3 separate regions of the Homo sapiens genome follow, and all the other regions are linked to region 3. Evidence: fine-mapped expression QTL. A gene starts in region 3. Each other region holds a variant in brackets. All regions are shown on one strand. Distances are between the middles of the regions. Region 1 has its middle 4.0 kb from the start of JAK3. Region 2 has its middle 23 kb from the start of CCDC124. Region 3 holds the start of SLC5A5 (solute carrier family 5 member 5).

Region 1 (4,233 bases), 20 kb before region 3:
ACAACAAAATAATAAGCTGGATGTGGTGGCATGTGCCTGTAGTCCCAGCTACTAGGGGAGGCTGAGGTGGGAGGATCACCTGAGCCCAGGAAGTTGAGGCTGCAGTTAGCTGTGGTCATGCCACTGCACTCCAGCCTGGGCAATGGGAGTGAGATCCCGTCTCAAAAAAAAAAAAAAAAAGACTTTTCATCTCTGTATCACCATCACAAGTCTTAACACAAAATGGTTTGGTAAGTATTTTGTTGATCTTAACTGTTCAATCAGCCAGAGGCTTATTGGACACAGCCTGTGTGCAGGGAATCGGGGACAATGCAGACCCAATCCCTGTCCAGGGGAGCTGACAGTCCAGCAGGGGAGATGGCAATAAACAAGCTATTGCCCAATAATTATATCAGTTGCCCCTGGGACCGGTCTGCTAAGAGAGATGACTGGATCTGGGAGGGCTTCCTGGAGGAGGTGGCTTTGATTCTGAAATCCAACAACAAGTGGGACTAGCCAGAGAGTGACCTGAGAATGTGGGAGTGTGGGCAGTTCTGGCAGGCAGAACAGCCCAGGCAAAGGCCTGGAGGCTTCACGAATTCACAGTGTTCCTGAGAAGAGCAGGATGTCAGGGACACGGGGGGCTGAGACTCATTTGATGGCGTGGGTAGGGCCGCGTGGGTCAAGGGAAAGAGATATAGATTATGTCCTCAGCTTAGTGGAGCTTAGTGGAGCCACAGCTGACCTGCGGCAGGAAGTGCCAAGCAGAAGCTTAGTTGTAGTGTTTTCTTTCACTTCCTGGGTGGCTTCAGCAGACGGGAATGCAACCTTATGTTCTCATCCTTGGCCTGAGGCTGAAGCCTCTGCTTTCCGGAAGTACAGTGAGTTTCTGGGTCTCTGCTACCTCCAGTGTGATGGTTTCTGCAATATTTTGAGAATAAGTAAGAGGAGATTGGGGTGAGGACCAAAGTGGTACCTTCAGCCCCAGAGAAGGGCATGTGAAGGCTCTAAAAGGAAGTTCTGGCCGGGCGCGGTGGCTCACGCCTATAATCCCAGCACTTTGGGAGGCCGAGGCGGGCGGATCGCCTGAGGTTAGGAGTTCGAGACCGGCCTTGCCAACCTGGTGAAACCCCATCTCTACTAAAAATACAAAACGCAGCTGGGTGTGGTGGCGGGCGCCTGCAGTCCCAGCTACTCAGGAGGCTGAGGCAAGAGAATCACTTGAACCTGGGAGGCGGAGGTTGCAGTGAGCCGAGATCGCACAACTGCACTCCAGCCTGGGCGACACAGCAAGACTCCGTATCAAAAAATAAATAAATAAATAAATAATTTTTTTTAAAAAAAGGAAGTTCTGGGGACAGAACCCAGAACTTGCCCGAGAAAAATGGGGCACGTCAGTGATGCAAACACCCAGATTTTTCTGCTGACAAGAAGTCCATAAATACAATCAAAGAATAAAATACAATCAAAGTGTAACTGGAAACAAAATTGAACTCATGGATAAAATATCCTCGTTATATAAGTAACATCTAGAAAGCAGTAAGAAAATGCCAACCAGTTAGGTGGATATGAATCCAGAAGTCAGAGAAAATGGAGGACAAATAGCTCTTAAACCCAGAAAAATTTCCTCAGCTTCACTTGCCAAATGAAAATTAAGAGTACAGTGAGGCAGGGCCAGGCACGGTGGCTCATGCCTGTAATCTGAGCACTTTGGGAAGTCAACATGGGAGGATCATTTGAGCTCAGGAGTTGGAGATTAGCCTGGGC[A/G]ACATGGTGAGATCCGTCTCTACAAAACATACAAAAATTAGCCAGGCATGGTGGTGTGCACCTGTAGTCTCAGCTACTTGGAAGACTGAAGTGGGAGGATGGCTTGAGTCCAGGAGGCAGAGGTTGCAGGGAGCCAAGATAGTGCCACTGTACTCCAGCCTGGGCGACAGAGCGAGACTACATCTCAAAAACAAAAACAAAAATGGTAAAAGACTGAATAACTTCCTCCTGAGATTGGAAACAAGACAAGGATGTCCATTTTCACCACCTCTATTCAACATTGTTCTGGTGATGTTAGCCACTGTAATAAGAAAAGAAAAAGCAGGCTGAGGCAGGAGAATGGTGTGAACCAGGGAGGCGGAGCTTGCAGTGAGCCAAGATCGGGCCACTGCACTCCAGCCTGGGTGACAGAGTGAGACTCCGTCTAAAAAAAAAAAAAAAGAAAGAAAGAAAAGAAAAGCTGGGCATGGTGGCTCACGCCTGTAATCCCAGCACTTTGGGAGGCTGAGGTGGGAGAATCACAAGGTCAGGAGTTCAAGACCAGCCTGATCAACATGGTGAAACCCCATCTCTACTAAAAATACAAAAATTAGCCAGGCATGGTAAAAATACAAAAATTAGCCGTGCGTGGTGATGCGCGCCTGTAATCCCAGCTACTCAGGAGGCTGAGGCAGGAGAATCGCTTGAACCCGGGAGGTGAAGGTTGCAGTGAGCCAAGATCGCGCCACTGCACTCCAGCCTAGGTGACAGAGGGAGACTCTGTCTCAAAAAAAAAAAAAAAATTAAAAATTGGCAGGGTGTGATAGCTCACACCTGTTGTCCCAGCTATTTGGGAGGCTGAGGATTGCTTGAGTCAGGGAGGACAAGGCTGCAGTAAGCCATCATCACACCATTACACTCCAGTCTGGGCAACAGAGCGAGATCCTGTCTTAAAACAAAAAAATATATGAGAAAAATAAACAAGTCAGGTGTGGCTGGGCATGGTGATACATGCTTGTAGCCTCAGCTACTGGAGAAGCTGAAATGGGAGCCCAAGAATTTAAAGGCAACATAGCAAGATTCTGTAACAAGCAAAACAGAATAAAATAAGTAATAAAAAAAAGGTAAATAAAACTGTTGCTATTTGCTGATGATATGATTGTTTATGTCAAAAACCCAAGGGAATCTATAAGACAACTACTGAAATTAATACATAAATTCAGCAAGTTACCAGGTTTAAAAAGTCCGTTGAATTCAATACAAAAGTCAATTGAATTTTTATACACCAGCAGCAAACAATTGGAACATAAAAAAATTTTGAAAAATTTCCTTTGCAGCAGCACTGAAAAAGATAAAATACTGTGATGGTCTGAGAGTTTGCGTCTCCCCAAAATTAATACATTGAAATCCTAACCTCGAAGGCGGTGGTATTCAGAATCGGAACCTTTTAAGAGGTGATTAGATCATGAGGGTTGAGCTCTCATGAATGGGATTAATGCCCTTATAAAAGAGGCCCCTAGGCTGGGCATGGTAGCTCACGCCTGTAATCCCAGCACCCTGGGAGAATTGCAGGCTGGTCTCTGACAAACAACTTGTGTTTGAGACCAGCCTGGGCAATGTGGCGAAACACCACCTCTACCAAAAAAAACACAAAAATTAGCTGGGCATGGTGGTGCACACCTGTAGTCCCAGGTCAGGAGTTTGAGGCCAGCCTGATCAACGTGGAGAAACCCCATCTCCACTGACAAAACAAAATTAGCTGGATGTGGTGGTGCATGCCTGTAATTCCAGCTACTTGGGAGGCTGAGGTGGGAGAATCGCTTGAACCCAGGAGGTGGAGGCTGCGGTAAGCCGAGATCACACCATTGCACTCCAGCCTAGGCAACAAGAGCAAAACTCTGTCTCAAAAAAAAAAAAAAAAAAAAAAAAGGCCGGGTGCAGTGGCTCATGCCTGTAATCTTAGCACTTCGGGAGGCCAAGGTGGGTGGATCACCTCAGGTCAGGAGTTCAAGACCAGCCTGGCCAACATGGTAAAACCCCGTCTCTGCTAAAAATACAAAAATTAGCTGGGTGTGGTGGCGCACGCCTGTAATCTCAGCTACTCTGGAGGCTGAGGAAGGAGAATCGCTTGAACTCGGGAGGTGGAGGTTGCAGTGAGCTGAGATCGCGCCACTGCATTGCACTCAAGGTTGCGTGACAGGAAAGAGGCTACATCTCAAAAAAAAAAAAAAAAAAAAAAGAAGGCCAGGGACCTGGAGTCCGGAGTGCATACAAGTGGGTGGCTTTGCAGTGTTTTGAGGACCAACGGTCAGAAACCAAGATTTGGGTGTCTTGGGCCCAGCCTTGGGAAGGCACTGGTGCCAGTAACTGAGATGAGGGAAAGAGTGGGAAGGATGAGGCACATCAGCATTGTGAACGCTCCGTGATCCAAGCTGTGGCTTGGCCCAGGATCCTGGATGAACAAACTGGTGCCTTCAAAGTCCCTGGGAAAAAGACAGGGGGGACAGG
Region 2 (4,233 bases), 37 kb after region 3:
AGAGCTCTCATATACGTCTTCTATTCTCCTTCACCCCCACAATTTCCCCTATTATTAATATCTTTCATTAGAGTGGTATATTTGTTACAATAGATGAACAAATATTAATACATTATTATTATTATTATTATTTGAGACAGAGTTTTGCTCTGTCACCCAGGCTGGAGTGCAGTGGCATGATCTCAGCTCACTGCAACCTCTGCCTCCTGAGTTCAGGCAATTCTCCTGCCTTAGCCTCCCAAGTAGCTAGGATTACAGGTGTGTGCCACCACGCCCTGCTAATTTTTTGTGTGTTTAGTAGAGACGGGGTTTCACCATGTTGGTCAGTCTGGTCTCAAACTCCTGATCTCAGGTGATCCACCTGCCTCGGCCTCCCAAAGTGCTGGGATTACAGGTGTGAGCCACCGCACCCAGCCTAATACATTATTATTACTGAAGTCTACCTTTTACATTAGGGTTCACTCTTGGGTTGTGTATTCTATTGGTTTTGACAAATGCACAATGATGTGTATCCAACATCACAACCTATCATACTGAATATTTTCACTGCCCTAAAAATCCCCTGTATTTGGCTGGGTGCAGTGGCTCATGCCTGAAATCCCAGCACTTTGGGAGGCTGAGGCGGGTGAATCAAGAGGTCAGGAGTTCAAGACCAGCCTGACCAATAAGGTGAAACCCTGTCTCTACTAAAAATACAAAAGTTAGCTGGGAGTGGTGGCGCTCATCTGTAGTCCCAGCTACTTGGGAGGCTGAGGCAGAAGGATCGCTGGAACCCAGGAGGTGGAAGTTGCAGTGAGCTGAGACCATGCTATTGCATTCCAGCCTGGGTGACAGAGCGAGACTCTGTCTCAATAAATAAATAAATAGTCCCCCATGGTTAATCTATATTGGTCTTGCTTTTAGCGTCCTCCTCAGTTCTATTCATTTTGTTAATTTATTCTTTTTTATTTTCTGTAAATGGTCATATCATCTGGTTTCAATTCTTTTTCTTATCTTATTGCATTGTCCAGCACCTCCACATAAGCACGAAATATTAGCCATGATTTGAGGCATTCCTGCCTCATTCTTAAATATGTTGTACATCCTGTTTTACCATCTTTTTTGTTTTGTGTGTGTGTGGAGGTGGGGACAGAGTCTTGCTATGTCACCCAGGCTAGAGTGCAATGGCACAATCTGAGCTCACTGCAACCTCTGCCTCCCAGGTTCAAGTGATTCTCCTGCCTCAGCCTCCTGAGTAGCTGGGATTACAGGCACATGCCACCACGCCTGACTAATTTTTGTGTTTTTAGTAGAGGCAGGGTTTCACCATGTTGGCCAGGCTGGTCTCGAACTCCTGACCTCAGGTGATCTGCCTGCCTCTGCCTCCCAAAGGGCTGGGATTACATGTATGAACCACTGCACCCGGCTCTGTTTTACCATCTAACAGGATGCAGGTGATTCCTTTCTAATCACCATCAATGGTGATCAGAACTTTTAAGAAAAATTCTAAGAACTTAAAAAAAAAAAAGGAAAGTGGTTTCTGAATGTTATCTAAAGTTTTTCCATGGTGAAATAATCACGTGGAATTTTTCTCCTTTTATCTTTTCATTGAATAAATGAAGCTTTCTAAAGCTGAACTTTCCTTGTCTCTTTGGAATAAGACCCCGCATACTCCTAGTATAGTGTCTTTTAAAGCACAGCTGAACTCAATTTGCTAATGTTTTATTCAGCATTTTTGCATGCACCAAGAGCCCTGACCTCTTCCTGGCAGCTCAGTACCCTGCAGCTGAGCCGATTCCCATAGGAATCCTGGAACTTCTGCATAAGGTCAACTGGGTGACTTCAACCAAGCAGCTCCAGAGGCCTCCTCCCAGAATCTCCTCTTCCTCTGGGCAACCCTGCTGCCTACCCCAGCACCCCAGGCAGTGCCCTTGCCTCCTGTTCCTCCTCGTCCTCTGAGCCCTGTCTTGCAGCCCTGTTGAATGTTCTCCTAAATGGCTGGGAGGTGGGGCCCCTCCCCTTCAGGTCCACAGGCTTGTCTCTGTCTCCCCTGCTGATCTTGGTATCTGTAGCTTAAGCCAATACTGAGGCCCTGAATTCCTATTCTTTCTGGTACAGCGGGAGAGTTGTCAAGAAGCCAGGTGGAGCAGAAGACAAGACCAGGCAGGAAGCAGGTAAGTTTCCACTGGAATGACTCCACTTGCCTCCTACCGAGGCCCAGGGCTGTGTCAGCTTCAG[G/A]TGCAGCTGGCTCCAGGCCCACCTGGGGCACAGCACGGCAAGGATGGAAGGTCTCCCCTACATCCTATTCTCCCCAGAGCCAGGTCTGAGACGGGCTGGGATTGAGGATCATCCCAAAACTGGTGGCTCTCAGGAGGTAGCTCACCTCATGCCACCTACCCCACCAAGATGGAATCTTTTTTTTTTTTTTTTTTTGAGACAGACTCTTGCTCTGTCACCCAGGCTGGAGTGCAGTAGCATATTCTTGGCTCACTGCAACCTCCGTCTCCCGGGTTCAAGCGATTCTCCTGCCTCAGCCTCCCGAGTAGCTGGGATTACAGGCACCCGCCACCACACCCAGCTAATTTTCATATTTTTAGTAGAGACAAGGTTTCGCCATGTTGGCCAGTCTGGTCTTGAACTCCTGACCTCAAGTGATCTGCCCACCTAGGCCTTCCAAAATGCTGGGATTATAGGCGTGAGCCACCACTCCTGGCCTAAGGATGGAATCTTGATGAAATTGCTGTGTGGCCTGCAGCCAGTCGCTGCCCCTCTCTGGGTCATCCACGTTGCTTTCTCCAAGTCCTGACCTGGCAATGGATTGTTCAAGGAGCTGGTCAAATCCACAGTTGCCCCAGCAATGCAGAGCCCTCAAACATGAAAAAAAAAAATCTAGACAGAAAGATTTTTTTTTTTCTTAGAAAAATGAGCCAGGTGCAGTGCCTCACGCCTGTAATCCCACCACTTTGGGAGGTGGGGCGATCATCTGAGCCCAGGAGTTTGAGACCAGCCTGGGCAACATGGTGAAACTGCATCTCTACAAAAAATACAAATATTAGCCTGGTATGGTGATGCATGCCTGTGGTCCCAGCTACACAGGAGGCTGAGGTGGGAGGATCGCCCGAGCCTGGGAAGTTGAGGCTGCAGTGAGTTGTGATCATGCTACTGCACTTCAGCCTGGGTGATGGGAGTGAGACCCTGCCTCAAAAATCTAAAAAAAGAAAAAAAAAGAATATTAGATTACAAAATTCACATTACTGTGGAAATTGCTTTTGCCCTTCCAAAACAAATCATAAAACATGTTTCCTGGTGAATACATACAAATCTTACTAAATCTTCTTTTGAATACATATAAATCTTATTAAATCTTCTTTTAATTTATTTTTTTAAATTTGGCTTTTCTTTTTTCTTTTTAATCACAAAATAATTTCAAGAGCCAATTTGTCCTGGAGGCCTTGTTATGAAAATCTGCAGACCCCTGCGGCTCTCATGTTTGACGAAATCAAGAAAAACATTAACACAATCGTTGCAGAAGGGTGACCAATGCGGTTGCTTTGCGGCTGAGTATTGGTTTTATTTCAAAACACAATGTAAGAGGAACAAACAAAACACACATCCCACTCAACACCACACTTCTGACACCAGATGTGTGGGTTGTCTTTATTTTTTCCACATAGTAAGCAATTCTCCAGTGGACACCAGCTGGGATTCCTCTGATGCAATTTGGTTCCGATGCTATCTACTCGGACACAGCATCAGATCCCGCAGGTTAAGGGCTCAATCCCACAAAACAGCCCGCCTTGAGACACAATGGTCTCTATAGAGTGGGATACCCCACCCTTGCAACCTGCAGATGTGTTCATCAACTCGGAAGCTCTTCAAACCCCATCTTTTGGGGATTTTTATGGGGGCTTCATTATGAAGGCATGATTGATTATTAACTCAGTCCCTAGCCCCTCTCCGGTCTCCAGAGAAAGAGGGTGGGGCTGAAAGCTCCAAGCTTCTAATGATGGCTTGGTCTTGTTGGTCCCCACCCAGGAACCCACCAAGAGTCATCTTTTTAGAACCAAAGACGCTCCTATCACCCAGGAAACTCTAGGGGATTTAGGAGCTCTATGTCAGACACTCCCATCACTCTGTCAGGAACTGGGGTCAAAAGACCAAATATTTATTTATTTATTTATTTATTATTATTTTGAGACGGAGTCTCGTTCTGTTGTCAGGCTGGAGCGCAGTGGTGCGATCTCAGCTCACTGC
Region 3 (4,233 bases):
TCCAGCCGGCAACAGGTGCCCGCGTAGCCGCCGCAGTGTCACAGCCCCGGGGGAGGGACAGGTCCACCCTGCACAGCAGAGAGGGAGCAAGAGGACTGTCCGGGGGTTACGTGGGGACGCGTTGAGAAACGCTGGACCCAGCTGGAGCGGCCAGGGCAGAGGGTAGGCCAGAGGAGGCCACCAGGGAGCAGCAGAGGCTGGCGAGAAGCGCTCAAAAGCCCTTTTTTTTTTTTTTTTTTTTTTTTTGGAGACGGGGTCTTGCTGTGCTGCCCAGGCTGGAGTGCTGTGCAGTTCTCGACCACAGCTCATTGCAGCCTCGAACTTCCACGCTCAAGCGATCCTCCCACTTCAGCCTCCTGAGTAGCTGGGATTACAGGCATGTGCCACCACGCCTCGCTAATATTTGTATTTTTCATACAGACAAGATCTCACTATGTTGCTCAGGGTAGTCTCGAATTCTGGGACTCAAATGATCCTCCCACTTCAGCCTCCCAAAGTGCTGGGATTACAGGCATAAGCCATCATGCCCGGCCTCTGACGCTGTTTCTTTCAACCCCCAGGATTTCAGATTCCACCAGCTTATGGAGAAGGGAACCAAGTTTGAGATGCGTGATTGCCCAGAAAGTTGGAGGCTGAGCTGAGACTTGAACCCAGAGACCAGAACCTCCAGAGGTCAAAGTCCTCCTGGGTCCCCCAGAGAAGGGCCCTGAGATGACAGCTCGTTGGTCCTCATGGAAGCGTGACCCCCCCAGTAGACTTTCTCCCACACCCAACCTTGGTTTCCTCATCTATATGATAGGGACAAGCCAGACTCTACCTCCCTGGTGGTCATGGTCTCCGCTTATTCGGGTTCATAACCTTAAAGGCCCCTCGCACCACCTCAGTGAGCCATTTATGCCTGGCACAGGGCCAACTCTCAGTGCATATCTGCAAAGGAACCAATGAATGAATGAATGAAGTGACAAATGAATAAAGGAATAAATGAATGAGGCACTTATCATGTACCAGGCTTTCGTTACCACGTCCCATTTATTCCTCTGAGGCAGGGTCTATTTTATCCTTGTTACAGATGGGGAAACTAAGGCCCAGGGAGGAGCAAAGTCTTCCCCAAGTATGTACCCACTCAGAACTTGAGCTCTGAATGTCTCCCACCCAGCTTAGCCCAAGAGCGGGGTTCAGTGATGCCCACCCCCTAAGGCTCTAGAGAAAGGGGGTAGGCCCACATGCCAGTTTGGGGGTGGTAAAGCCAGGTAAGTTTTCTTTATGGGTCCCCTGAAACCCTGAAAGTGAACCCCAGTCCTGCATGAAAGTGAGCTCCCCATAGCTCAAGGTATTCAAGCACAATACGGCTTTGAGTGCTGAAGCAGGCTGTGCAGGCTTGGATAGTGACATGCCCTCTCTGAGCCTCAATTTCCCCACCTGTCAACAGCAGACAGTGACAGCTGTGATCAGGGGATCACAGTGCATGGGGATGGGTGGGTGCATGGGGATGGAGGGGCATTTGGGAGCCCTCCCCGATACCACCCCCTGCAGCCACCCAGATAGCCTGTCCTGGCCTGTCTGTCCCAGTCCAGGGCTGAAAGGGTGCGGGTCCTGCCCGCCCCTAGGTCTGGAGGCGGAGTCGCGGTGACCCGGGAGCCCAATAAATCTGCAACCCACAATCACGAGCTGCTCCCGTAAGCCCCAAGGCGACCTCCAGCTGTCAGCGCTGAGCACAGCGCCCAGGGAGAGGGACAGACAGCCGGCTGCATGGGACAGCGGAACCCAGAGTGAGAGGGGAGGTGGCAGGACAGACAGACAGCAGGGGCGGACGCAGAGACAGACAGCGGGGACAGGGAGGCCGACACGGACATCGACAGCCCATAGATTCCTAACCCAGGGAGCCCCGGCCCCTCTCGCCGCTTCCCACCCCAGACGGAGCGGGGACAGGCTGCCGAGCATCCTCCCACCCGCCCTCCCCGTCCTGCCTCCTCGGCCCCTGCCAGCTTCCCCCGCTTGAGCACGCAGGGCGTCCGAGGACGCGCTGGGCCTCCGCACCCGCCCTCATGGAGGCCGTGGAGACCGGGGAACGGCCCACCTTCGGAGCCTGGGACTACGGGGTCTTTGCCCTCATGCTCCTGGTGTCCACTGGCATCGGGCTGTGGGTCGGGCTGGCTCGGGGCGGGCAGCGCAGCGCTGAGGACTTCTTCACCGGGGGCCGGCGCCTGGCGGCCCTGCCCGTGGGCCTGTCGCTGTCTGCCAGCTTCATGTCGGCCGTGCAGGTGCTGGGCGTGCCGTCGGAGGCCTATCGCTATGGCCTCAAGTTCCTCTGGATGTGCCTGGGCCAGCTTCTGAACTCGGTCCTCACCGCCCTGCTCTTCATGCCCGTCTTCTACCGCCTGGGCCTCACCAGCACCTACGAGGTACCGGACAGAGGCCCGGGGGTAGGACCTGCCCCACTGGCAGTGCTGGGACCCCGTGTGGGGGAGGCGCTGGGGCTTTGGGCCGCTGTACAGGAGGACGCGGATGGCACCTCGGTGCTTTAACGGAAGGGGCCCCTAGGCAGACACGTGGGGAGGGTTCTAGGAAGAGGCCCCAGGCGCCCGGCGAGGGGCAGGAAGGAGGAAGAGAGAGCCTGGCGTCCTGCTCCTTCGGTGGAAGCGCGCGCGGGGCGGGGCCCGGCTCGACCAGGTGTGTCCTCACGGGTGGACACACACCTGCCCCCCACCTGCCCGGGCGTGCAGACCCACGTGTGCGCGCTAGAGGGGACTGCTGACGGCTCCGGGGTTCGAAACCTGGCTTCACTGCTTTCTTGTATCTTGGGCAAGGGGCGTGCCTCTCTGTTTGGGTTTCCCAGCTGTCCAATGGGCGAATTACAGGACCTCCCTCCAGGGGAGAGGGTAAAGCGATTAAAATCGTGACCGGGGCCCGGTGCGGTGGCTCACGCCTGTAATCCCAGCACTTTGGGAGGCCAAAGCATGCAGATCACCTGAGGTCAGGAGTTCAAGACCAGCCTGGCCAACATGGCGAAACCCCGTCTCTACTAAAAATACAAAAATTAGCCGGATGTGGTGGTGGGCACCTGTAATCCCAGCTACTTGGGAGGCTAAGACAGGAGAATTGCTTGAACCCGGGAGGTTGCAGTGAGCCGATATCGCGTCACTGCACTCCAGCCTGGGCGACAGAGCGAGACTCTTGTCTCAAAGGAAAAAAAAATATTGTGGCAGGGCGCAGTGGCTCACGCCTGTAATCCCAGCACTTTGGGAGGCCGAGGTGGGTGGATCACGAGGTCAGGAGTTCAAGACCAGCCTGGCTAACATGGTGAAACCCCGTCTTTACTAAAAATACAAAAATTAGCCGGGCATGGTCGCGCGCGCCTGTAATCCCAGCTACTCAGGAGGCTGAGGCAGAAGAATTGCTTGAACCTGGGAGGCGGAGGTTGCAGTGAGCCGAGATCGTGCCAGTGCACCCTAGCCTGGGCGACAGAGCGAGACTCCGTCCCCCCTCCCCCCCAAAAAAATCGTGACAGGTATATCCTAGGCGGCCAACACCATTGGCCCGGGGCACTGTCTACACTGTGCGCTTGCGGGCCACGTCGGTGTCTGCTGAGCGGTGGCTGCTCCAGGAGCCCGCGCCCGTCAGGCGCAAGTGGGAGGGCGCGTGCACACGCATGGACCAGTCCTCCAGGTCCACGGGGTACGCACAGGCACGGGATGGCACCTGTGCACGGGTGTGTGCGTGCGGCGGGGCCCCCACGTGCAAGAATCTGGCGGGCGCGGTTGGCTTCCGGAGGGAGGGGCCCACCTAGAGAGCAGACCAGGGACCCGAGAGGCCTCGGCTCCTGGGTAAGGACTGTCCAGGTGACCTCGAGTCCCTCCTTGCAGTACCTGGAGATGCGCTTCAGCCGCGCAGTGCGGCTCTGCGGGACTTTGCAGTACATTGTAGCCACGGTGAGTGGCCTCGGCCCCGCCCTCCGCTCAGGGCCCCGAGAGCGTCAGCCTTCACTAGCCCGGCCCCCACCATTCAAGACCCCGCCCAGACCCCGCCCCCCATGCTCCCGTTCTGACCCCGCCCCCATCAGTCCCCTCCCACACCACAGCCGGCCTGACCCCGCCTGCACTCTGGAAGACCCGGCCTATCTGCCCCGCCCATATTCTGGGACCACCCTTCTGCCTCCTCTCCCCATCCCCAACTCGCCCAGACGCCCTCCCTGCTCACCCGCCCCACACTCTGTCTACAGATGCTGTACACCGG

Evidence for each region.
Region 1: its variant is fine-mapped to the expression of SLC5A5 in whole blood (TOPMed, PIP above 0.99).
Region 2: its variant is fine-mapped to the expression of SLC5A5 in cerebellar hemisphere (GTEx, PIP above 0.99). The same link has a PIP of 0.9 or more in cerebellum.

The regions. Positions count from the first base shown.
Region 1 is chr19:17,849,907-17,854,139 of GRCh38, forward strand. No RefSeq gene overlaps it. Among named protein-coding and RNA genes, the nearest start is that of JAK3, 4.0 kb to the left of the region's middle. The variant A/G (reference allele first, on the strand shown) is at 1,747.
Region 2 is chr19:17,907,421-17,911,653 of GRCh38, forward strand. No RefSeq gene overlaps it. Among named protein-coding and RNA genes, the nearest start is that of CCDC124, 23 kb to the right of the region's middle. The variant G/A (reference allele first, on the strand shown) is at 2,218.
Region 3 is chr19:17,870,275-17,874,507 of GRCh38, forward strand. SLC5A5 (solute carrier family 5 member 5) reads left to right here and starts at 1,671. Exons shown (of 15, transcript NM_000453.3): 1 at 1,671-2,402; 2 at 3,864-3,929; 3 at 4,220-4,233. The coding sequence starts at 2,046. RefSeq lists an enhancer at 3,441-4,213 and a silencer at 4,006-4,135.